Regions from separate parts of the Homo sapiens genome. Here regions 1 and 3 are each linked to region 2. The links come from fine-mapping of genetic effects on gene expression. A gene starts in region 2. Each other region holds a variant in brackets. All regions are shown on one strand. Distances are between the middles of the regions. Region 1 has its middle 9.2 kb from the start of SPNS3. Region 2 holds the start of SPNS2 (SPNS lysolipid transporter 2, sphingosine-1-phosphate). Region 3 overlaps SPNS2 (SPNS lysolipid transporter 2, sphingosine-1-phosphate).

Region 1 (7,767 bases), 74 kb after region 2:
GATCCGCCTGCCTTGGCCTCCCAAAGCGCTGAGATTACAGGCATGAGCCACCATGCGTGGATAATTTTTTGTATTTTTAGTAGAGACAGGATTTCGTCATGCTGACTGGGCTGGTCTCGAATTCCTGAGTTCAGGTGTTCTGCCTGCCTCGCCCTCCCAAAGTGCCGGGATTACAGGCGTGAGCCACCACGCCTGGATAATTTTTTGTATTTTTAGTAGAGACAGGCTTTCGCCATACTGACTAGGCTGGTCTCGAACTCCTGACTTCAGGTGATCTGCCTGCTTCGGCCTCCCAAAGTGCTGGGATTAAGGCACGAGCCACTGCGCCCAACCAGTGTTCTCATTTGTGATAGAGAATAATAAGATGGGTTGGGCGTTGTGGCTCATGCCTGTAATCCCAGCACTTTGGGAGGCCAAGGCAGGCAGATCACCTGAGGTCAGGAGTTTGAAACCAGTCTGGCCAACATGGTGAAACCCCGTCTCTACTAAAAATATAAAAACTTAGCCGGGCGTGGTGGTGCATGCCTGTAATCCCAGCTACTCGGGAGGCTGAGGCAGGAGAATCACTTGAACCCAGGAGGTAGAGGTTGCAGTGAGCCGAGATTGCGCCATGGTACTCCAGCCTCGGCAACAAGAGCAAGACTCAGTAAGTCTTAAAAAGAGAATAATATGACGATGTTTCAGGGGTTAATTGTGAGGATGAACTAATATAGATACACATACTGTTTCCAACATAGAGCTTGTCATGTGACAAACAGAGTGTAGAGTATTGTTATTGTGGTGGTGACGATGATGACGAGGTCCTTGGCATCCACTGCCTGGTTCAGCCGCATACCGTCTCGGTGACCACCCACATGGGGTCTACAGTTGGTGAATGAAGGGGAAGTTCAAGATCATCCATGCGCACGTGCAGGCGGTCTCGCATCCTGCTTCAGAACCTGTACTCCGCAGCTAGACTCACTGCTCACTGGCCATAGGATCTCAGGCAGATCACTCAACCTCTCTCCATCTCAATTTTCTCACCTACAAAATGGGGATGGCCAGGCACAGTGGCTCGTGAATGTCATCCCATTACTTTGGGAGGCCAGGACAGGCAGATCGCTTGAGTTCAGAGTTGGAGATCAGCCTGGGCAACACGGCGAAACCCCGTCTCTACTAAAAATGTAAAAATTAAGGCCGGGCGCGGTGGCTCACGCCTGTAATCCCAGCACTTTGGGAGGCTGAGGCGGGTGGATCACCTGAGGTCAGAAGTTCGAGACCAGCCTGACCAACATGGTGAAACCCCGTCTCTACTAAAAAAAAAAATTTTTAATACAAATACAGATACAAAAATTAGCCAAGGATGGTGGTGCATGCCTGTAATCCCAGGATCACCTGAGCCCAGGAGATCAAGACTGCAGTGAGCCGTGATCGCACCACTGCACTCCCACCTGGGCGACAGAGTAAGACTCTTGTCTTGAAAATAAATAAATATAAAACAAATAAAATGGGGATAAAAATAGTACACACCTCATGGGACTGTTGTGGCTTGAATACGATGATGTTTGAAAAGTGCCTAGAACTATGCTTGGTATGGAGGAAGTATTGTGAGTGTTAAATATAATGGGGTTTTCCCCAGCACATGTAGATGAAACTTTGTTCTCAGCCCCTGCCCTCAGAGCCAAAGAGTAGTGGGCAGAGCTACATCCACAAGTGTGAGTGCATGAGGAGAAGGTGGGCACACGAGCACCCACACCCCCACTCACACACACTCATGCAAACCACACAGCAGTGGGGACCTTGGCAGCCCCCACCTAGCAGCTGCTGCCCCAAACAGGACCTTTCCAGGGTCCAGCCCTCACCTTTACCCAACAAGAAAGAGACGCTGTGGTGGTTTTCAGAGCCAGTCAGGGACTAGGGAGGGGTTCTTGAGGCCAGAACTCCCAGGAGTTGGGCAAGTCAGGGAGGCTAGGTGTTAGCCAGGAGAGCAGCATTAGAATATATCCAACTGGCCAGGTGCGGTGGCTCACACCTCTAAAACCAGCTACTGGGGAGGCTGAGGTGGGAGGATGGCTTGAGGCCAGGAGTTCGACGCTGCAGTGAGCTACGATCGTGCCATTGCACTCCAGACCGGGCGACAGAGCAAAACCCTGTCTCCAAAAAAAAAAAAAAAAAAAGAAGACATCATGCTGAGTGAAATTACCCAGATGCAAAAGATAAATATTGATTGTATGATTCTACTTATATGAGATTTATAGAATAAGTGAATTTTTTAATTAATTATTAATTTTAATTTTATTTTATTTATTTGTTTCTTTTTGAGACGGAGTCTCACTCTGTCACCCAGGCTGGAGTGTAGTGGAACGATCTCAGCTCACTGCAACCTCCACCTCCTGGGTTCAAGCGATTCTCCTGCCTCAGCCTCCCGAGTAGCTGGGATTACAGGCACGTGCCCCCCACGCCCAGCTAATTTTTGCATTTTTAGTAGAGATGGGATTTTGCCATGTTGGCCAGGCTGGTCTCGAACTTCTGACCTCAGGTGATCTTCCTGCCTTGGCCTCCCAAAGTGCTGGGATTACAAGCCTGAGCCACCGCGCCCGGCCATTTATTTATTTTATTCATTCATTTATTTATTTATTTATGAATGACAAGGTCTGGCTCTGTCACCCAGGCTGGAGTACAGTGGCACAATCTCAGCTCATTGCAATTTCCTTCTCCCAGGTTCAATCCATCCTCCCACCTCTGCCTCCCGAGTAGCTGGGACTACAGGCACACGCCACCATGCTGGCTAATTTTTTGCATTTTTTGTAGAGACAGGGTTTTGCCACGTTGCCAAGGCTGGTCTCAAACTCGTGAGCTCAAGCAATCTGCCCACCTCAGGCCTTTCAAGGTACTGGGATTACAGATGAGAGCCACGGCGCCTGGACTAGAATATGTGAATTTACAGAGACCAAAAGTAGAATAGAGGTTAGGAGGGACTGAATGGGGGCGAGTGAGAAATGGGGTCATTGCTTAATGGGCACAGAGTTTCAGTTGGGGATGATGAAAAAGTTTCACA[G/A]ATGGAGGGTGGTAATGGTTGCACAACGTGAGTGCATTTAGTACCTCTGAGCTTTACACTTAAAAATGGTTAAATTGAGGCCAGGCGCAGGGGCTCGCACCTGTAATCCCAGCACTTTGGGAGGCTGAGGCAGGCGGATCACCCGAGGTCAGGAGTTCAAGACTGGCCTGACCAAAATGGTGAAGCCCCGTGTCTACTAAAAATACAAAAATTAGCCGGGCGCGGTGGCTCACGCCTGTAATCCCAGCACTTTGGGAGGCTGAGGTGGGCGGATTACGAGGTCAGGAGATCGAGACCATCCTGGCTGACATGGTGAAACCCCGTCTCTACTAAAAATACAAAAACAAAATTAGCCAGGCATGGTGGCAGGCGCCTGTAGTCCCAGCCACTCGGGAGGCTGAGGCAGGAGAATGGCGTGAACCCGGGAGGCACAGCTTGCAGTAAGCTGAGATTATGTCACTGCACTCCAGCCTGGGTGACAGAGCAAGACTCTGTCAAAAAAAATACAAAATACAAAAATTAGTTGGGCGTGGTGGCACATGCCTGTAGTCCCAGCTACTTGGGAAGCTGAGGCAGGAGAATCGCTTGAACTCGGCAGGCAGAGATTGCAGTGAGCCGAGATCGCGTCACTGCACCCCAGTCAGGGCGACAGAGCAAGACTCTGTTTCAAAAAAAAAAAAAAGGCTAAATTGTAAATTCTATATTATTTTACCACAATTAAAAAAAAAGTAAATGGGGTTATTGTAATATCAGAACAGTGACAACATTCTAGATTCCCAGCTTCAGAGGCTGGTTAAATAAATTATGGTACCTCCAGGCCAGGCGCCGTGGCTCATGCCTGTAATCCCAGCACCTTGGGAGGCCGAAGCAAGCGGATCACCTGAAGTCAGGAGTTCGAGACCATCCTGGCCAACATAGAGAAACCCCGTCTCTACTAAAAATACAAAATTAGCCGGGCGTGGTGGCACATGCCTGTAATCCCAGTTATTTGGGAGGTTGAGGCAGGAGAATCGCTTGAACCCTGGAGGCGGAGGTTGCAGTGAGCTGAGATCCTGCCATTGCACTCCAGCCTGGGCAACAAGAGCGAAACTCCATCTCAAAAAAAAAAAAATTAAATTAATAAATAAATCATGGTACCTCCCTACAATGGGGCACCAGACAGCCCTGTACATGATGTTAGTCTATGTTGATCTGAAAGACGTTCAGAATTTGATGGTGAAAAATAAACAAGAGCCTACAAAATCCATGTCCAGGATAATTCCATTCAGATAAAAATAATAAAACACATCAAAGACAAACTTGTGAACTGGCCAGTCATAGCTTATTTGGCTGCTTTTTCTCGTGAATTCTGATACAGAAGCTTATTGGGGGCCAGGCGTGGTGGCTCACACCTGTAATCCCAGCACTTTGGGAGGCCAGGGCGGGCAGATCACCTGAGGTCAGGAGATAGAGACCAGCCTGGCCAACATGGTGAAACCCCGTCTCTACTAAAAATACAAAAAAATTAGCCGGGCATGGTGGTGGTGCCTGTAATCCCAGCTACTTGGGTGACTGAGGCAGGAGAATCCCTTGAACCCAGTAGGCAGAGGTTGCAGTGAGCCAAGATCGCACCACTGCACTCCAGCCTGGGCAACAAGAGCAAAACTCCATCTCAAAAAAAAAAAAAAAAAGCTCATTTGAGATGATTTTTAGTGGAGACCCTTCCAGAGTGGCTCCCATCAGAGTTTAAATTTATGTCCTTTTTTTAACAAAAGAAATGTCCAGCCTCACAGAATAGGAGGTGACAGGCTGGGCACAGTGGTTCACACCTGTAATTCCAACAGTTTGGGAGGCCAAGGTGAGAGGATTGTTTGAACCCAGGAGTTTGAGACCAGCCTGGGCAACAGGCCCCCATCGCTGCAAAAAAAAAAAAAAAAATTAGACAGGCATGGTGGTGGTGTGCCTGTAGTCCCAGCTACTCAGGAGGTTGAGGCAGGAGGATTGCAGGATTGCTTGAGCCAAGGAGGTTGAGGCTGTAGCGAGCTGTGATTGCATCACTGTACTCCAGCCTCAGTGACAGAGCAAGACCCTTAATCAAAAAAAAAAAAAAAAAGAAGGTCACAGGAAGTCACTCAGGAATCACTTTTTTTTTTTTTTGAAATGGAGTCTCCCTGTGTCACCCAGGCTGGAGTGCAGTGGTGCAGTCTCGGCTCATTGCAAGCTCCACCTCCCGGGTTCACGCCATTCTCCTGCCTCAGCCTCCTGAGTAGCTGGGACTACAGGCACCTGCCACCACACCCAGCTAATTTTTTGTATTTTTAGTAGAGACGGGGTTTCACTGTGTTAGCCAGGATGGTCTAGATCTCCTGACCTTGTAATCCACCCACCTCGGCCTCCCAAAGTGCTGGGATTATAGGCATGAGCCACCGAGCCCGGCCAGGAATCACTCTTCAGAAATCCCCAGGGAGTCATCTTTTATGTGATGAATCAATAAGGATGCTTTTGTCCGCAAGTAACAGCAGAAGTAACAGCAGCCAAACCAGGACATTCATTCGTTCTCTTGCACTGCAAATCAAGAAGTAGGCAGTTTCAGGGTTGATTAACTCAGTGGCTCCATGACATCATAAAAAACTCAGTGTTTTTCATCTTTCCCCCCTGAAATCTTTATAGTGTTGGCCTTTGATTACTTAATTAATTGCTATAAAACAAATCCCCCCAGAACTCATGGCTTTAAACAACAGTAGTCATTTATCTCTTGCATTTTTCAGTGGTCAGGAATTTGGGAGCAGCTGAGATGCAGGACTATGGCTCAGGGTCTCTTGTTGCCGTGAAGGGCTGCAGTCCCCTAAAGTCTTAACTGGGGCTGGGAGCTCTGTTTCCAAGGGGCCTCACTCACGTGGCAGGCAAGTTGGTGCTGCCTGTTGGCTCCTGTCTAGATGGGTCCCTCCACAGGACTGCTTGAGCATCCTCACGGTATGGTGGCTAGTTTCCTGCAGGGGGAACAATACATTAGGGACCAAGGCAGAAACTGCAACATCTTTTTTTTTTTTTTTTTTTTTTTTGAGACAGAGTCTTGCTCTGTCACCCAGGACGTAGTGCACTGGCACAATCTCCACTCGCTGCAACCTCCATCTCTTGGGTTCAAGCGATTCTCCCACCTCAGCCTCCTGAGTCACTGGGATTACAGGCGCATGCCACGACGCCCAGCTAGTTTTTGTATTTTTAGTAGAGACAGCGTTTTACCATGTTGGCCAGGCTGGTCTTGAACTCCTGACCTCAGGTGATCCAGCTGCCTCGGCCTCTCAAAGTGCTGGGATTACAGGCGTGAGCCACTGCGTCTGGCCTGCATCTTTCCTGACCTGGACTCCTAGGTCTGTACTCAGCTGCATTCCATTGGCCACACAGGCCAGTCTATGCTCTGTGTTCCCATACTCTCTGCTGCCCCTCCATGTGGAAGGGCATGAATACCAGGAGGGAAAGCTTGCGGGAGATCTTTTTTAAAAAAAGAAGATTTATGTATTTTATTCAAGCCAATTTTTTTTTTGTTTTGCTTTGTTTTTGAGATGTCGTTTTGCTCTTGTCGCCCAAGCTGGAATGCAGTGGTGCAATCTCAGCTCACTGCAACCTCTGCCTCCCAGGTTCAAGCAATTCTCCTGCCTCAGCCTCCCAGAAGTAGCTGGGATTACAGGCACTTGCCACCACGCCCGGCTAATTTTTGTATTTTTAGTAGAGACAGGGTTTCTCCATGTTGGCCAGGCTGGTCTCGAACACCTGACCTCAGGTGATACACCCGTTTCAGCCTCCCAAAGTGCTGGGATTACCAGCCTGAGCCACCACGCCCTGCCACGAGATCTTCTTGCAGGCTGGCTACCACAGTCTCCATCTTGAGGCTTGTCGTCTCACATATAAGAAGGTAGGAGATTCATCCTGAAATGTGTTCATGTGTATTTATTAGGGAGGAAAATCTGCCCTAGAAATTCCCCTGCTGGTGCTCCCTCACAGCCCACTGGCCAGGTTGAGTCACATGTCGGTGCCACGTCTGCAGGAGAAGCTGGGAAGGTGGGTGCCAGGGAAGTCTGCCTCTGTCTCTGAGGAAGAATGGGAAAGAAAGGGGCCACAGGGTAGCCGGGCGCAGTGGCTCATGCCTATAATCCCAGCACTTTAGGAGGCTGAGGCGGGCGGATCACTTGAGGTCAGGAGTTTGAGACCAGCCTGGCCAACATGGTGAAACCCTGTCTCTACTAAAAATACAAAAATTAGCCAGACGTGGTGGCAGGCGCCAGTAATCTCAGCTACTCGGGAGGCTGAGGCAAGAGAATCGCTTGAACCCAGGAGGCAGAGGTTGCAGTGAGCCGAGATTGTGCCACTGCACTCCAGCCTGGGGAGACAAGAGCAAGACTTCGTCTCGAAAAAAAAAAAAAAAAAGAAAGTGGCCACGGGATAAGCAGACCATGTCTTCGCAGATGGCTAACCACCTCTCAGCCTTGATGCTTGCAGGGCTGAAACGAGCTCCTGGTATGGATTCCCAAAGAGGAAGGGAAAATTTTAGGTTCTAGATCTAGAAGGTGGCAGATGTCAGAAGCTGTCCTAACCCAGGCCTCCTGGAGCTAGGAGTCACCCTAGATGGTGGAAAGTGTGCAGGAAATACAGCCACTGAACCCTGAGAACAGCAAGCTTGACATCTCAAGCCTAGAACCCTTCTCGCTGAGGTTAGCACGATTTCAAAAAGCATCGTTACCACCAAGTCCTGG
Region 2 (7,767 bases):
GGCATCGTGGCCAGCTTGAGCAGAGGCATGAAGGAGAAGGCAGCTGGCACTCGTGAAGCCCTCCTAGGAATCTGGCCCCGTCCCAGGTGCTCGAGATACAGTCTCATTTATCCCACGCAACCCGGGAGGCAGGCGGGAGGGGAATGATCACACAGAAGGCTCAGGTGATGTCTTCAAGGTCACACGGCTGGGAAGCTGAAGAGCCTTGGCTCGAACTCTGGCAACAAAGACTCTAGACCTGCACTGTCCACTCTAGTGGCCCCTGGCCACCGTGATATTGACATGTGCTGTGAATGGAAAATACACATACTGGGTTTCAAAGACTTAGTATGAAAAGGGAGGCAAAATATCCCATTAACAACATACATATGTGTGTGTGTGTATAATTTTTTTTTTTTTTTTGAGACAGAGCCTCACTCTGTCACCCAGGCTGGAGTACAGTGGCGCGATCTTGGCTCAATGCAACCTCCACCTCCTGGGTTCAAGCGATTATCCTGCCTCAGCCTCCCGAGTAGCTGGGACTACAGGTGTGCACCACCATGCTAGCTAATTTTTGTATTTACTTTAGTAGAGATGGGGGGTTTCACCATGTTGACCAGGCTGGTCTCGAACTTCCGACCTCAGGTGATCCACCCGCCTCGACCTCCCAAAGTGCTGGGTTTACAGGCGTGAGCCACCGCGCCCAGCCCTAACAACTTTTATATTGATTACATGTTGAAATATGTTGGATATATTGAGTTAAATAAAATATATTATGAATTAATCACACCTATTTCTTGTACTATTTTAGTCCGGCTACCAGAAAATTTGACAGGAATATGTGGCTTACATTATATTTCTTTTGGACAAAGCTGGTCTACACTATGAAAAAACAGATTTAAAGGACAGAGTTAAAGAAGGAGAGTGGGACCTCCCTTCCATCTTTGGTGGGGAGCTGGGGCCAGGTAGGTGCAAGCATCAAAGACTGAGCAATTGAGTCTCTGCATCCCCATCTCTGTCCCAGCTGGGCCAGCCAGCAACAGGTGCACTCAGGCCTGGGATGAGCACTCCCCTGGCCCTAGCACATCAAGCCATAGTAGTTACCATAGAGATAATAAATATTCCTAAAAACTGAACTTGGGGAAGTGGAGATGGGGAAATCTACCATAGAGAGAGGGGCAACCAGGCTTATCCGGAGAGGAAACCTGTGTCTGTTGTGTGTTGGGGGTGGGGTGGTGTGTGAGCTCCCACTCCAGGCCAGGAGAGGGAGGGAGGCACAGCCCAGGCAAGTGTTTGCACAGGACTTTCCGGGCCTTCCTCCCTAACTGCCCCACGCCCCTCTTAGCCACCACTCCCCACCTCCCTTTACCAATTCACCACAAATTTCCTATCTCATTCCCCCATGCTGACAATCTGACTCAGAGACCTGAGTAGAAGTGGGAGCAGATAAGTGCCAGCCCTCCCTGATCCCACCCTCTCTGGCTCTGCCCCTGGCAGAGGCAGTTCCCCTAAGAACGTCAAAGGGGGTGGTCTGGGGCCAGAAAAAAAACAAGTTGGAGAGCGCTACAGTGCCAGAAGTAGTACCATTCCTTCTTCAGCTGAGAAAGGGTGGGAAGACCTCCTCCCAGGCAGAGCCTTACTGTTAGAGCTAACACCAGCTTTGCCAGTCACTTTCCTGGCCATCTTGAACGGGGGCTGTACAGGGACATTGGTCCCCCTATCTGTGTACAGAAGCCTTTTGTGAACTGACTACAGGTCCCAGGTATTCTCTGATTTCTCCCCCAAAGGATGGCGCTTATGCTCCCAGGTCCCCGGCAGCATGGTGCATGCGTGACAGCGGCTGGCGTTTTTGGGAGGTGCTCAATATTCCTGCTCTCTAGACCAAAGTAAGTTTCTCTTTGGGATAGCTCGACCCAGAAACTGATGCCACTGGTACCCACTTCCAATTTCCTCCAGCGGAAGGACAGAGAGCCAAGGGGGGTTGAAAGCAGGAATGGGGGGAGGGGGAAGCCTCTGCCCTCCCATCAGAATTCTTCCCTTCCATTTGACACAAAACTCCATTCAACAGACGGGGAGACTGAGGCCCAGAGAAGGCACCAGGTGGCATGTGGTTTATGCCCGGGCTCTCTTCCCTCAATTGCCGCAAAGTTCTCTTTAGAGTCTGTCCAAAAATAAATCCTTCCCTCTCTCCTATCTCCTCTCTCTCTCTGTTGTGTGTGTGTTTGATAGCTCCAGATTTTACTAAGCTATAGTTACGCAGGTTCTGGGCCAGCATGCCAGGCACACAGTACTGCTCTCCTCCTGCAGGGAGCCCCTTCCTATGCCAGTCTGGCCAAAGTCCTTCCCTCTCAAAGCTCCACCATTCCCAACCAGTAGCAGCTCAGTCTAGGGCAAATTCTTACCCCTAGACCCACCCCTAATTGCTGGGGAAGGGAGCCAGCAGAAGGCAATTCCAGAACCACGTGCGTCCCCCAAAGGCCCAATGATCAATCAACTCACAAACGGGCAAACAGACCTAAACACACGCTGAGACTGGCCCAAGGTCACACACCAAGCACATTAGGAGCAAAGCTGGGGCTAGAACCCAGTTGTTCTATCGATCCCAATCCCGTCCCCAAGGCTGATTCCCAGAGATGCTCCCTGAGGATGAGGCTCCACGTCTCTAGCTCCAGAGGCCTGCGCCCTACCCTACACCCCAAGCACCATAGAGCAGGGGGAGGCGTCTCCAGGCCTCTGTACAGGGCCAGCTGCAAACCGCAGCCTGGGTCCCCAGGCGCCGCGGACCCGCCCCGCCCCTCCCTCCGCTCCCCGCAGCCCGGAGCCTTTGTCAGCCACGCGCTCACACACAACCGCGCCGCCACGCGCACACACACCCGGTCTCCCTAGCGCACACCCGCAAGGGGCGCGCGCACTCGCCGCACGCACGCAGGGGGGTGGAGGCGGCGGAGAAAGGAAGGAACTGACGGGCCATGGACGGACAGACGACCTGGGCTGGGGGAAGGGAAGGGAAGGAGGCCCGGGAACCGGCAGCTGGGGTCGGAGGGGGCGCAGAGACAAGGAGACAGAGAGACGCAGAGGAGACTCTTGGAGAGGAGGACAACGGATGGGCCGTCAAGGGCTGGAGAGGACGCGCGGGCTGCTCCAGGGGTGGGGACTCCTCTATCCCTTGGCCCCGGGTGTGTATGAGCGGGGAGCTGGATTGTACCCGTGGTGCACGGAGGCATCCCTTGCCCAGTTGTGCCTGAGCAGAGGGTCCGTAGGGACCTCACGTAGGGCCTGGAGATAGCAGGCCTGAGACCAAAAGCTCTCTGGGGTACCTCCCTCGAGGCGGGTGGTGGGATGGGGTGGGGTCTTGGTCCTCGGGCTGGGTGGGGCACTCGCTCACCTGCCACGGTGTACCTGTCCAGGTAGTTGAGCACGTTGCCCAAGCTGAGGATGGCGGCGGCTGCCCCCCGCCCGCGGCCCAAGCTGGCCGGTTTGGGCTGCTGAGCGCCGGGGCCCTTTGCAGTAGCTGCGCAGCCGGGGGTGCCGGGGGTGCCGGGGGGTCCGGTCGGGGCCCGCCTTACGCTGCCCGACAGCGTCTGCACCTCATCGCCCGCGGCCGAGACTCCAGCGCCGCCCGCGCCCCGCGCCCCGCAGCAACCGCTACCGCCAGCCCCTCGCTGCGCCCCCCGGCGCCGGCGCCGCCGCTCCGCGTCCGCCTCCTCCTCCTCCGCGCCGCCCGCCGCCGCCGAGGCGCATTCCAGGCACATCATGCCGGCCCGGATCGGGGCGGCGGGGGGCGCGGGGGGCGCGGGGCCCAGGCTGGGCCCGCTCAGCGCGTGCGTGCGCCGCGGAGCCGCCACTGCACCATCCTGGTCGGGCCCCGTCGGCTCCTGCGCTCCGGCCCCGGCTGCGGCGCTGCCACCGCTCAGCTCGCTGCGCCTCGTTCGCCGCCGCGGCTCTGACAGCTGCGGCCCGGCCCCGCCCACCAGGCCCGCGCCCAATCAGCTCCGGGCTCGGGCCACAGCCCCGCCCCGCACGTGCTGCCCTGGGGGTGGGGGGCCCGGGGACTGGGGGCCCGGGCGGCAGAGCCCCTCCTGCCAATGGGGGCGCAGTCACGCCGGGGCCGACCGGCCGCGAACGCCCGCGGGGAGCGGGAGAGGGTTTGCTCTGGCTACGGAGCTGGGAGCAGGGTGCTGGTGACGGGGCTCCCAGCACCTACTCAGTACCCTTCACCCAACCCCTGCCTCGGGCGTGGACTCCCGGCGGAGGCTCTGGGAGCCGGGCTGAGGGCTTGAGCCTAGCGTATCTGGGAGAACTGGAGAGAGGAGTCTCAGATGGCTAAAGTCAGGGGCGCCAGTTGGAGAGCCGGTGGCTCCTCCGATACTCACACGCCCGGATTTAACCAGTTCAGGGAGGGCCCAGAACCTAGACCTCCACCAGTCATGGTGGGCTGTGTCTCCCACCTCCCCAGGGCAACCCAGATCCAGCCCCCAACCTACCCCGGGCCCATTCCTGTGTGGGCACCCGGACCCTACCCTTGCCCCACAGAGTGGCCCGCAGCCCCTGGCGGGGAGAGCAAGGGCTGTGATTGGGGCCCAACAGAAACAGGATATTCAGAAGGGGCTTTCCCTCCTGAGGGACCACATCTCCAAGCTTCAGACTTCCAGGTATGTGCTAGAGAGGGTACAAAGCCCCCAGTGGCAGACAGGAGGCTGGGTCCTAGCTCAGCTCTGCCCTGGTGTGTGGCATGATCCTGAACATGACACCCACTCTCTGGGCCTCCATTTCTGTATCTGGGGGCAGATGGCAGGATGGGATTCAGTCTGGAAATCCACGGGTGGTCACCTCCCCTTGGTGGGACGGGGCGGGGGTCTGCCTCCTATGGAGAGTGGTTGGGGTGCTTCTGTGTTCCTGACATCCCATCACGGTTTCACCCCTCCTTAGAGGTGCTGTGGCTCTGTGACGATCTCCCCCTTCCCTCCCCCATTCACCTGTTTGGGGAATTAAAATCGAAATTAAAATCCTGTATAAAGTGCAGAGGACAGAATGTTAGAACTGGACAAACCCTCGGAAACCAGTTAATCATTCCCTGTGTTTCACAGACAAGTCCCAGGGCACGGACGTGACCCATTACGAACAGGCAGTGAAGCTGTGGCAGGGCTGGAGCTGCCCCAGGCTCTGGCATCATCCCCGAGGGCTGGAGCTCACTCCCCGCTAGAGGCTTTTCCGGACCCCACGTCCACAGGCAGGTGCATCTGGTGAAGCTTTCGGCCACAGTGAGTCATGGCATAGCCAACGGGTGACACAGCACGAGGCACCCCCCCCGCCCCCCTCCACTGTCTCTTGTGAGCAGAGTTAATCCCCAAGCTGGTGTTTCTTGGCGCCTTCGAGGTGTATTTTAAATTCTGCAAAGTGACTAAAAATATGCTTCAGCGTGCTGGGTATGAATGACTGTGACGGGAGGGTTAGGAAAACAGATTTCATTCTCAAAGTTGCCTGCTGCCTCTTTCCAGCTCGCTGAGCTCAGGCCTGCAAAGGCGGATGGGGGGAGTTCCCCATGGTGGCCTGGCATGACGGGTGATTAACAAACAAGGACAGAGAGCTAGGAGCTCCGTGGGGCTAGAACCCGGCCCCAGCAATGATCTCGTAAGTGTGTGATGGTGCCAGCAGGTGGACAGAGTCCAGCTGTGGGAGGCTGCCCAGCTGTGGAACTGTGTCTAGTGGTGAAGGAGGCACAACCACAACTCTAGACCCAAGCCCAGGGTCCCCTTCCCGTGCCCCAAAACTCCTCATCCCTTTGGCCACAGTCCTGTCCAGGTGGACACTTTCGGCCTTGACAGAAAGGGGAGCATTCTCTTTCTGCTGCCTTCCCTTTTCACCACTGGGAAGGTCCCAGAGCAGGGGAAGAGGGTGGCATGAGCCTTTCAAACCTGGGGGACCTCTGAGCTGCCACCAAGCAAGCCAGCCCTTCCCACTGTGTTTCACTGGGGTTTCAACTCAAAGGCAGCCTCTAGAATAAGTCCTTGTGTGGGATAAGGGGCCACCAAGGGCAGAGGGACAGGGAGGACAAGAAGCCCTTTCTGGTTGTGCAGCCCAGGACAAATCCCTACAGCCTTCTGAGAAGCTCTGGCAGTAACCTGGGGCTGTCAGACAGAGGACTGGTAGGGTTCTTTCCTCCATCTCGCCAATGAAGAAACTGAGGCCCAGGGAAAAGAAGTAATTTGCCCAAGGTCGAACACCTGGTAAATGACAGTGCATGGACTAAACCCAGGTGTGTTTACCCTCTAATCCAGCACTTCCTCCACTGCACGCTGCCCTCAGACTGGGCGGGATTCTGTTTCTTCATCAGTATAACAGGAGGCTGAACTCCGTGGCTAAAGGACCTTCTGATATTCATTCATTAGGTCTAGATCACAGCTTCAAAACAAATGGGGGCCGGCGTGGTGGCTCATACCTGTAATGCCAGCACTTTGGGAGGCCGAGGTGGGTGGATCACCTGAGGTCAGGAGTTCGAGACCAGCCTGGCCAACATGGTGAAACCCGGTCTCTACTAAAAATACAAAAATTAGCCAGGCGTGGTGGGGCGCGCCTGTAATCCCAGCTACTTAGGAGGCTGAGGCAGGAGAATTGCTTGAACTTGGGAGGCAGAGGTTGCAGTGAGCCAAGATCATGCCACTGCACTCCAGCCTCGGTGACAGAGTGAGACTCCATCTCAAAAACAAAAACAAAAACAAAAAACAAAAGTGGGGGGAAAAAAAGAAAAGAACACACACAAAAAAGAAAAAAATGGGGCACAGAACATTAATGGCCATTATTCAAAGAGCAGTCATACTTGGGAAGTAGTGGGATAAACACAGAAAAGTAGGTTTCCTTAGGGACTTTTGAGAGCCTTTACTATGAGAATACATGCTCTGAGTCTCCCAGAGGGAGATATAGGATGCCACGTTCCCAGGTGTGTGTGACCACAGAATGTCTTGCAAGACGAGAGCTCTGCAGGACACACTCTGAGAAACACTGGCCTAGAATGCACTTGCTCCTCCTTGGCTGGTAATTGGGAGCTCAGCCCATCTGCCCTCTGCCCATCCTCCCACATGGGAGTGTCTCCAGGGCTCAGGCCTCGGTTGTTTCCCTTCCCCCTTGGCAGCCTCTCACCTAGGCCTGAAATTTACTTTTTTTGAAAAAATTTTTAAGAGGCAGGGTCTCTCTCTGTCACCCAGGCTGGAACGCAGTGGTGCAATCATAGCTCATCATAACTTTGACCTCTTGGGCTCAAGGGATCCTCCTTAAGAAGGGGCTTCCTGATGCTGGGCGCGGTGGCTCATGCCTGTAATCCCAGCACTTTGGGAGGCCAAGGCGAGCAGATCACTTGAGGTCAGGAATTCAAGATCAGCCTAGCCAACATGGAGAAACCCCATCTCTAGTGAAAACACAAAAATTAGCTGGGTGTGGTGGCATGCGCCTGTCATCCCAGCTACTTGGGAGGAGAATTGCTTGAACCCAGGAGGCGGAGGTTGTAGTGAGCCGAGATCACACCACTGCACTCCAGCGTGGGTGACAGAGTGAGACTCTGTCTCAAAACAACAACAACAACAAAAAACAAAAAAACAAAAAACAAAAAAAAGAGAGCCAAGACAGACAGGAGCAAAGACAGAGAAACGGAGACTTTCATATTCCAGCCTGGGTGACAGAGCAAGACTCCATCTCAGGAAGAAAAAAATAATAATAAAAAATAAAAATATATATATAAAAAAGAAGAGTCTTCCTCTCCTGAGGATCCACACCTCAGCTTCCCAAAAGGCTGGG
Region 3 (7,767 bases), 36 kb before region 2:
CGGTTCTGGGCTGGGACCCTGGCTCCAGGGCCATGTCCAGGGCTCTGGTGTTTGCCTGGGTTGGTGCAGGTTGATGTGCTGGCTGCAGGCAGGTGTGACCATCTCTCGTGCCTGCCACCTCTTTGCCCCCAGGCTTTTTTGCTGTGAGGGAGCCACCAGGGGGTGATTTAAATAGGTTTATTTCTTCATTTACAAGAGGAATATATTTGGCTTCTCTCTTAAGACTCTGAGATTCACAATCAGCAGCTCTAAAAAATAAAGGAGCAGTTTGGCTTCCGGAAGGAAGAGGAGGCAACACTCGGACCTGGTTCTTGTACAACAAGAAAACATCGCTGGGGCCCCGCTGAGGCTGGAGTGGGGGTGGAGGCTGGTCTTTGGAGGATGCCACCCCCACCCCATCCTCTTGTCAGGCCCTCGGGGTACCCCAGAGCTTGGTGGGTGAGTATTCCACCTGCTTACACACCACTGAAGCCACAGCCAGCCAGTAACTAAGGGGCAAGAAGAGCATTGTCCAAGCTGGCTCTTGGGGGGTCCCCCATTGGCCACAAGGCCTCACCCCCCACCCCACCCCCGCACCAGAACCACCTTGATTGCAGCAGAAGTGCAGGGAGTGGGTGACGCAGGGGGCTAAGCTCCCCCAAAGCGGGTTGGGGCTGGTGTGAAGTTGGCAGCTGCATCCTGGTGTGTGCATGGATGGGAGGTGGGTGATCGAAGGCCTGGCCCCCCCCTGGGGTCACTTGGTGGAATGCCAGCAGCCAGTGTTTGGGTAGGGGCCGCCTCTCCCGGGGCCTCAGCCTCAGCTCTGGGGCAGGAAGCTTTGTGGATAGCTGCTTCCTCCAGCAGCCGGAGCCCTGGCTACTGCCCCATGGATTCTGGGAATGGTCTCCTGGGCCCTGCCCCTGGAAAAGGCTCAGCTCAGCCTCGGGGAAGGAGTGGGGTCCTGGCTTGGGGGGTGGTGGCAGGGAGAGAAGCCCTGCAGAGTTGGGCTGGTGTGCACCTGCCAGAGACCTTGAGCCTGGGGGCACAGGTGGTGTACAGCTGCAGCCAGGGCCTTCACCCCTGGTGATGCCAGCTTGTCAGAACAGTCCCCATCTGGGACCTCCAGGCTGGGAGCCAACCCGAGACAGTGAGACAGTGTCCTCCAGGGAGTACCCAGAGACTTGGGCGCCCAGCTTCATTTGCCAGGTTGCGTCCAATATCCCCAAGGTCCGAGGCCCAGCTGAGCAGTGGTCCCTGCATACCAGGCCCTCGCGTGAGCCTCAAAGCCGGGACTGCCGCCCTGAGGCCTGGGCCACCTGCTCTCCGTATGGTCCAGGGTCTGTTGAGTCTTCAAAGCTGCAGATCGTGCTTTGCCCAGCAAGTTGTGTGGGAAAGTCCAGCCCCCTGGCCCTTCGTTCCAGGGAGGGCAGGGACTTGCCCAAGATCACATAAGCTGGTGGCAGGCCAGGCTCTCCCCGGACACCCACTTGGGGCTGTCTTCTTCCTTGGCCCCAGGGGCCCTGCGGCCCAAACCTAGGGCTGGGAACCTGTCCAACCGTGTGGCTCCAACACACACATCCTTCCAGGGTAACTGAGGACACAGCCTCTTCTTGATGCCAGGGCCACTCAGCAGGCCTGGGCCAGAGAGGGTGGGTGCCTAGCCGTGGATCACACAGAAAGCTTTGGGGCAGCCCAGCCGGTCCCGGACGCTGTAGGACACCTCCCAGACGAGGTGGGAGTGTGGGTTCTTCATTGTCCCAATGGCACCTGGGGAAAGGGGTGTCAGGTCAGCAGTGGGGCTTAGTGGGGCCTGTGCCAAGGCTGCCCTCCCTCCTTCCCTTTTCTTGCTGTTTGGAGACGCAAGCCTTCTCCTGGACCTGCAGCTGTGACCCTGGGTCTCGTGCTGCTGGGAAGCTATAACTCCCAGAGGGAAGGGCCAAGGAGTCAGGCCCTGGTACATCCAGGAGGATTTGGGAGAACAGAAGTCCGGACAGAGTGAGGAGTTCCTGGCCAGTCCTGGCCCTGATCTATGCGAGGCCCCACCCAGCCCTTGAAAGGAAGGAAAGGGGAGCTAATTTACTGGAAGGAGCAGCCTGCTGTCCCACCCATGGCTCCATCAGTAAATTCTGGCAACATCTTCAGAGACAAAGCCCAGAGTTGGTGGGATGTGCTGGGGTAGGAGGTGACTCTGGAGGAAAAGTGCTCCCTGTTGCCTAACCCTGGCCTTCCCCTTTCCTTAGGGAGCCCCCACGTGCCTCCCGGCCTGCACTCACCACCTCAGACTTTCACAGATGCGGGCGGCATCGCCAGCTGGTTCACCCTGGGGGAGAGACGGGCGGGGGTCAGGGTGGTGCATCAGCGGGGGCCGGGCCCGGGCACTGCTCTGGCACATCGTGTCGTGGGGGCCAGCTGACCGGAGGTGCTGGGCAGGGACCTCGTCAGCCCCAGGGGGAGATGGGAGAGCCCAGGGGTGGGGAGAGGAGAGAGAGAGGAGTAAAGAGGAAAGGAGAAAGAAGTCAGAAAGTAAGAGGAAGGGGAGGGGCCCCAGCTTTGAAAACCACTAAGTCCAGAGACAAACCCAAGTCTGGATCCACCAGACACCCCCGTGGCCTCCCACAGCTCCAGGCTGACCCTGGCACTGGGCCTCAGGGCTGGACCCCAGCAACCAGTGGGTGCACTGAGTGCATGGGAGGTCTGTACCCTCCCCGCCCCACCCCAGGGCAGGGCTCACGGTGGCTATCACGGTCCCTGCTTCCCGGCGGTGCAGCAGGGCCTCCCCTCCCCCCCACTCACTGCTGCTCAGCCCTGGCGCGGTCGCTGACGAAGAAGAGCGCAGTGGCGAGGAAGAACATGCCGCCCAGGACCACGACGAAAGGGCAGAGCATGAGCGCGTAGCCCAGGCTCAGGAACTCCCAGAGCGGGGAGTCCTTAGTGCTCTGGCGGATCAGGTCTGAGATCTGCGAGGATTTGGGGGTGGATGTCAGGGCAGAGCCCTCCTGCAGTCCCCCAGCCTGCCCTGGCCAGCCCCACCCCGGGGCTACTCACAAAGCCAATGAGGTAGGGGCTCCCGGCGTCCCCCAGCAGGTGGGAGGTGAAGCTCTGCAAGGCCACGGCAGTGGCGCGCCGCGTGGGGATGACCACGTACTGCGGAACAGGCGGGCAGGTCAGCGGCCAGAGGAGAAAGGCTCACGCGCTTGGCCCTGGCCCCGGGCCGTGGCACTTCTGAAGCCCCCACACCCTCAGACTCACTCCTGCCCTACGTCTTGACACCTCTCTCCCCTGGGCCCTGCCCTCCTCCCCACAGTCCCCTCTACTGCCCACCCCACCAGCCTGGCTGCTTCTCTCCTGCCAGTCACCCTTCTCCTCCCTGAGCCCCTCCCACCCACACACAGCTGCAGTCACCCTCACCCCAGGGGCTTCCACACCTCCAACCCAGACCACTGCGACCTGCCCCATACTGAAAGCGTCATTGGCCTCAAACCTGCTGTGCCCCCAGCACACCCCTCTGAAATTGGAATCTTCACCTCCCTCCCAGCTACATGCAGTTAAGGAATGATACTTTGGGGGTTGCCCAGGCGCCAGTCACTAGAGGCCATTAGCCCAGAGCCCTCCGAGCCTCGGAGTACCCGAGCCATCAGGAACGGCCATGCTGCTGCCTCTCCAGCGCGGCTCCTGCTCCATTCCTGAGACCAGGGTGCCTTGGCTTCTGCCCTTGGACCTGGGTCACGGGGACACTGAGGTCTAGAGAGGCACATGTTCCCGAGGGAACCTGAACCCCCGCCACAGCCATTTGTCCTCACCTCCCATCAAGCTAAAGACCCATCTTGGTTCCCCTCCCTGAGGACCAAGCCAGGCCTCGACTGGCCTGGGACAGGAGCTGGTGAGGCAGGCCCCTGCCTGCAAGAGCCTCCGCTCGCACCCGCGGGCACCCTCAGCACCAAATGCCGGCACTGCTGGGCCCCAGACCCCCATCAGACCAAGCAGGCCCCAACCTACAGGAGGTTGGCTTCAAAGCTGGGCAGGCCAGAGTCAGACAGGAGGGGCTGGGGTGGGGGCGGGACAGGCACAGCCAGCTCTGTGGGTGCCCAGGCAGCCCCTGTTCCCCGAGCTCCAGCTGCCTCGCCTCTTTGGAGTGCCAGCCTTAGTGGGCATTGTGTGCAAGCAACCAGCACCCACGGGGCACCCCGTTGCGGGAGAGGTGGGGGGCGGGTGGAAAAGGGCCTGAATCTGATGAAACGAGTGGCCCTGTTTCCAGCAGGAATAAACTGTTACACTTAATAAACCGGGACGCGATTTCCCCGGGACCCTGACCCTGCCGGCAGCTGTCAGGCGCTCCCTGGGGGTGGAGGCAGGAGAGGGGGTCCTGCCCAGCACCAAGAGCACTTAATCTGCACGGACTCCTCCCTTCACTCTGGGCCTGTGCAGTGACCCTGGCGCACCCCTGCCACCGCCTGGCTCCGTGCTGAGGCTCTGAACTGCGCCAGGCCTCCCCACCACCACCGCAGCCCATGGACTCGGGAGGACACAGAGCCACCCCAGGGGGAAGCGGATACGCCCGGAG[G/C]CTCAGGGTGGGGTAAGGCAGGCTTCCCGAAGTGCAGGGGCCGCAGTGCCTGGCACACTCATCTCCCGGGCTGTCCCATGCTGGGGCACCCAAACCCGGGCACCCTGAGAATCCACCCGAGTCCTTCCTCTCTGCCCCAGAGCCTGCCCTGACACCTCCCAGACACTCTCTCCTGTCCCCTCCTGACCCTGGCCAGGCTGACCCTTGGGCACAGGACCAAGTGTCACACTCACCCCTGCCACGCCCAGAGGGCCATGAACTCCTAGCTCCACTCCTGGCTCCTCCCAGGGTGCTCCCATCCCCACCCAGGGACACAAGCCCCTGCTGGCCGCTCAAGACAGCCCTTTGTCCCCAGCTGGCTGGGCTAGAGCCCATTGTTGGCCCTGTGAAGACAGCCTCTGTCCGCCCAGCCCCAGCCGCAGGCACGCCTGGGAGCCAGGCTGAGTAGAGAGGGCAGAGCCTATGGATGCTCAGACCCAGCGGGGGGAGGAGGGCGGGCAGGCAGCGCCACCTCAGTGCCAGCCTGGCACCGCCAGCCTCCCAGCCACTAACCTGAGCCTCGAGATGCCCCCTCCCCCTCAGTCTCCACATGGTGCTCTGTCTGCCTGCCCAACCCTGTTTTCCAGCCCTGGCCAGAGGCAGACCCCAAACTCTCTGATCCCCTCCCTGCCTCTGGGTTCACGTTCCTGGCAGGCCTGCCTTCCTACCAGCTCTCCCGCCCCTTCACCCGCCCTCCCCAGGCACCCCTGTGAGGTCAAGAGGCCTGGGTCAGCAGCACAAGGTGACCTCGGCCTGCCTGGCTCACCATGAGGATGTCTGCAGTGATGGCCCAGTTAGAAAACAGCAGCGTCTCCCCGACGAAGATACAGATCTGCCGGGGAGAAGGCAAAGCCACCATCAGCGGTCCCTCCATCCGCAGCAACCACAGTCTCTGTTCCCTACACACTGGCTGCTGGCAGGGAGCCCACAAAACCTCACACCCCTCCCGGGCCCACATCCATTCATGGGCTATCCAGAGACTTCAAGCCATGCCCACGGCCCTGAGGCACCCAGAGGCCCTGGACAGGCTGTGTGTGGCCAGGCTGGGGATGAGCAGGGGCAGCCAGAGAATAGGAGCCTCCCCGAGGGAAGGGAACATCCAGTAAGTCAGACCGAATGTCCTGTTCCAGACCCTCCCGCGGCCCAGGCCCAGCTCCCCCAGCACCCTTGACCCCCGCTGCACTCACATAGGCTCCTACGATGCTGCTCTTGGCAGCCACGAAGATCAGGCAGATGAAGATGGCAGAGCCCAGCATGCCCACGGCACACACCAGTGGGTCGGCCCGCTGGGTCTTCAGGCGGCACCAGCGCGTGGCTCCTGCCCCCGTGACCACGCCCAGAAATCCCGTAAAGCAGGTGATGGCCCCAAAGATGAGGCTGTGGGGACAGAGGATGGTGGCGCACGAGTTGAGGCGGCTCAGGGCTAAGGCTGAGGGGCTCTCCTGTCCGAGGTCCCTCACCAGCCCTGGGCCCACCCCGCGGGGCCCCACCTGTCCTTGGCCCCACAGGGCGGGCTGTTGCACGTCTCTGCTGTCTTCTGCACAACTTGGGCGCGGTGCAGGTAGAGCGGGATCCACATGCCCAGGGCCCCCGTGGCGAAGGAGACAGCCGACGTGGCCAGGGAGGAGAAGACGTAGCTGCGGCTGGGGAGAGGCCAGGCAGTGACACTGAGCTCAGGGACCTCCTTCACCCCCCTAGGCAGCCCCATGCACTGGGGGAACAGGAGGCCCCCAAATGCCTCGTCTTACAGGCTCCAGGGGTGAGGGTTCAGGCTGCAGGAATAATCGATTCTGGGGCCAAAATGTCCCTCCCAGCACTGAGACAGCAGAGGTGGGGTGTCTGGCTGAGGGTGCTAGTGGGCTGCCCTGCAGGGACAGGCCCTCTCATCTCAGCACCCCTCTCTCTTCCCACCAGACCCCTTCCCGCGGTACTCACTTTCGAATCAGGGCCTTCATATCTCGGAGCCATGAGGTCCGGGCCTTGAGCTGGTCCCCGAGCTGGTCGGCATGACCCCTTTTAGTGGCTGGGACCAGAATGAGGATGAGTGTTCCTGTGATCATGCCCAGGACAGGGGACACCTGCCAGAGAGCAGGAAGTTAGGACACCAGGGCCCAGTGAGCCTCGTCCCTGCTGCAGAAGGAGGGACTCAGGCAAGCCCATGCCTTCTCTGGGCCATAGGCTTCTCCTCTGAGCAGGTATCTGCCCAGCCTTCCTAATTGGGCTGCTGAGAAAAGCTGGGGCTGAGGTCGGTCAAGAGACTGGAGGCTTGAGATGGCCTGTCCAGACCAGGGGCAGGACCAGAGGTGGGAAGGTGCAGGGAAGCCAGACAGACTGAAGGAAGAAGGAGGGGTGGGTGAGTGGAGCAGTGGGTGGATAGATAGAGAAGAGATGGCTAAAGAGGTTGATGGAGAGATGGACAGAGATAGATGGAGGGATGGACGGATAGATGGACAGATGGACAGACGGATGGACAGATGGATGAACGGATAGATAGACGGACGGATGGTGGATGGATGGACAGACGGATGGAAAATAAGTAGATAGCCAGATGGGATGATGACTTTGAGGGAGGAGAAAATTCCTGGAGCAGGTTCCCCACGTAGGTTCCTCAGCCGCAGGGCCCTGGGAAGGTGCTGTTTGGGTATGAAGCGCTGGACTGACAGATCAAGTGGGCTGGCATTTGGTGGGGGCCCGATGCAGGCCCCACAGAGGCTCCCGAGCCCTTTTGGATCTTCCCCGTTTCCAGCCCATTTTCCAGAACAGAACCTCCAAGGCCCCAGGCTTCTCTCCGGGTGGGAGGGTAACACCCTGGCAGCCTGGATTCCATCTCACCAGCCCCGCAGAACACTCTCCCCCATGCCCCCGGGACTGGGAGCCCCTGGGTTGGGGAGTTCCTCTGCCTGCCACCTCCCTCTCGCCTCCCCATCCCCCCACCCCACTAAGAAATTCCACGGAGGCCGCTTCCTTCCTGCTTTTAGGAAAAAACACTTTGTCTTAAGCTTCCGCTCCTCCGAGAGACGAGGGATCTCTGTTTCCTCCGATTGCGCTGTCCTGGGGCCTTGGTAACTTGCCCCAAACCCAGCGAGACCGGAAGTGGCTCCAGACTCTGGGGCCCCCACACAGAGGTCTTGTCCCAGCCTTACCCTAGCACAGCGCCAGGGCTGGAGGCAGGAAGCACCGCCATGGAC

Evidence for each region.
Region 1: its variant is fine-mapped to the expression of SPNS2 in whole blood (INTERVAL, PIP above 0.99).
Region 3: its variant is fine-mapped to the expression of SPNS2 in whole blood (TOPMed, PIP above 0.99).

Annotation. Positions count from the first base shown.
Region 1 is chr17:4,420,822-4,428,588 of GRCh38, reverse strand. No RefSeq gene overlaps it. Among named protein-coding and RNA genes, the nearest start is that of SPNS3, 9.2 kb to the left of the region's middle. RefSeq lists a silencer at 7,700-7,767. The variant G/A (reference allele first, on the strand shown) is at 3,038.
Region 2 is chr17:4,495,015-4,502,781 of GRCh38, reverse strand. SPNS2 (SPNS lysolipid transporter 2, sphingosine-1-phosphate) reads right to left here and starts at 3,901. Exons shown (of 13, transcript NM_001124758.3): 1 at 3,365-3,901. The coding sequence starts at 3,734. It overlaps SPNS2-AS1 (SPNS2 antisense RNA 1), which reads left to right and starts at 4,047. Exons shown (of 3, transcript XR_001752763.2): 1 at 4,047-4,631; 2 at 5,067-5,240. RefSeq lists enhancers at 1-195, 2,467-3,101, 3,102-3,737 and silencers at 3,779-3,828, 3,889-4,038, 4,049-4,108.
Region 3 is chr17:4,531,432-4,539,198 of GRCh38, reverse strand. It overlaps SPNS2 (SPNS lysolipid transporter 2, sphingosine-1-phosphate), which reads right to left. Exons shown (of 13, transcript NM_001124758.3): 6 at 6,515-6,657; 7 at 6,070-6,222; 8 at 5,767-5,956; 9 at 5,346-5,411; 10 at 3,025-3,123; 11 at 2,773-2,936; 12 at 2,253-2,299; 13 at 164-1,746. The coding sequence ends at 2,257. It overlaps MYBBP1A (MYB binding protein 1a), which reads left to right. Exons shown (of 26, transcript NM_014520.4): 26 at 1-295. Among named protein-coding and RNA genes, the nearest start is that of MYBBP1A, 20 kb to the left of the region's middle. The variant G/C (reference allele first, on the strand shown) is at 4,541.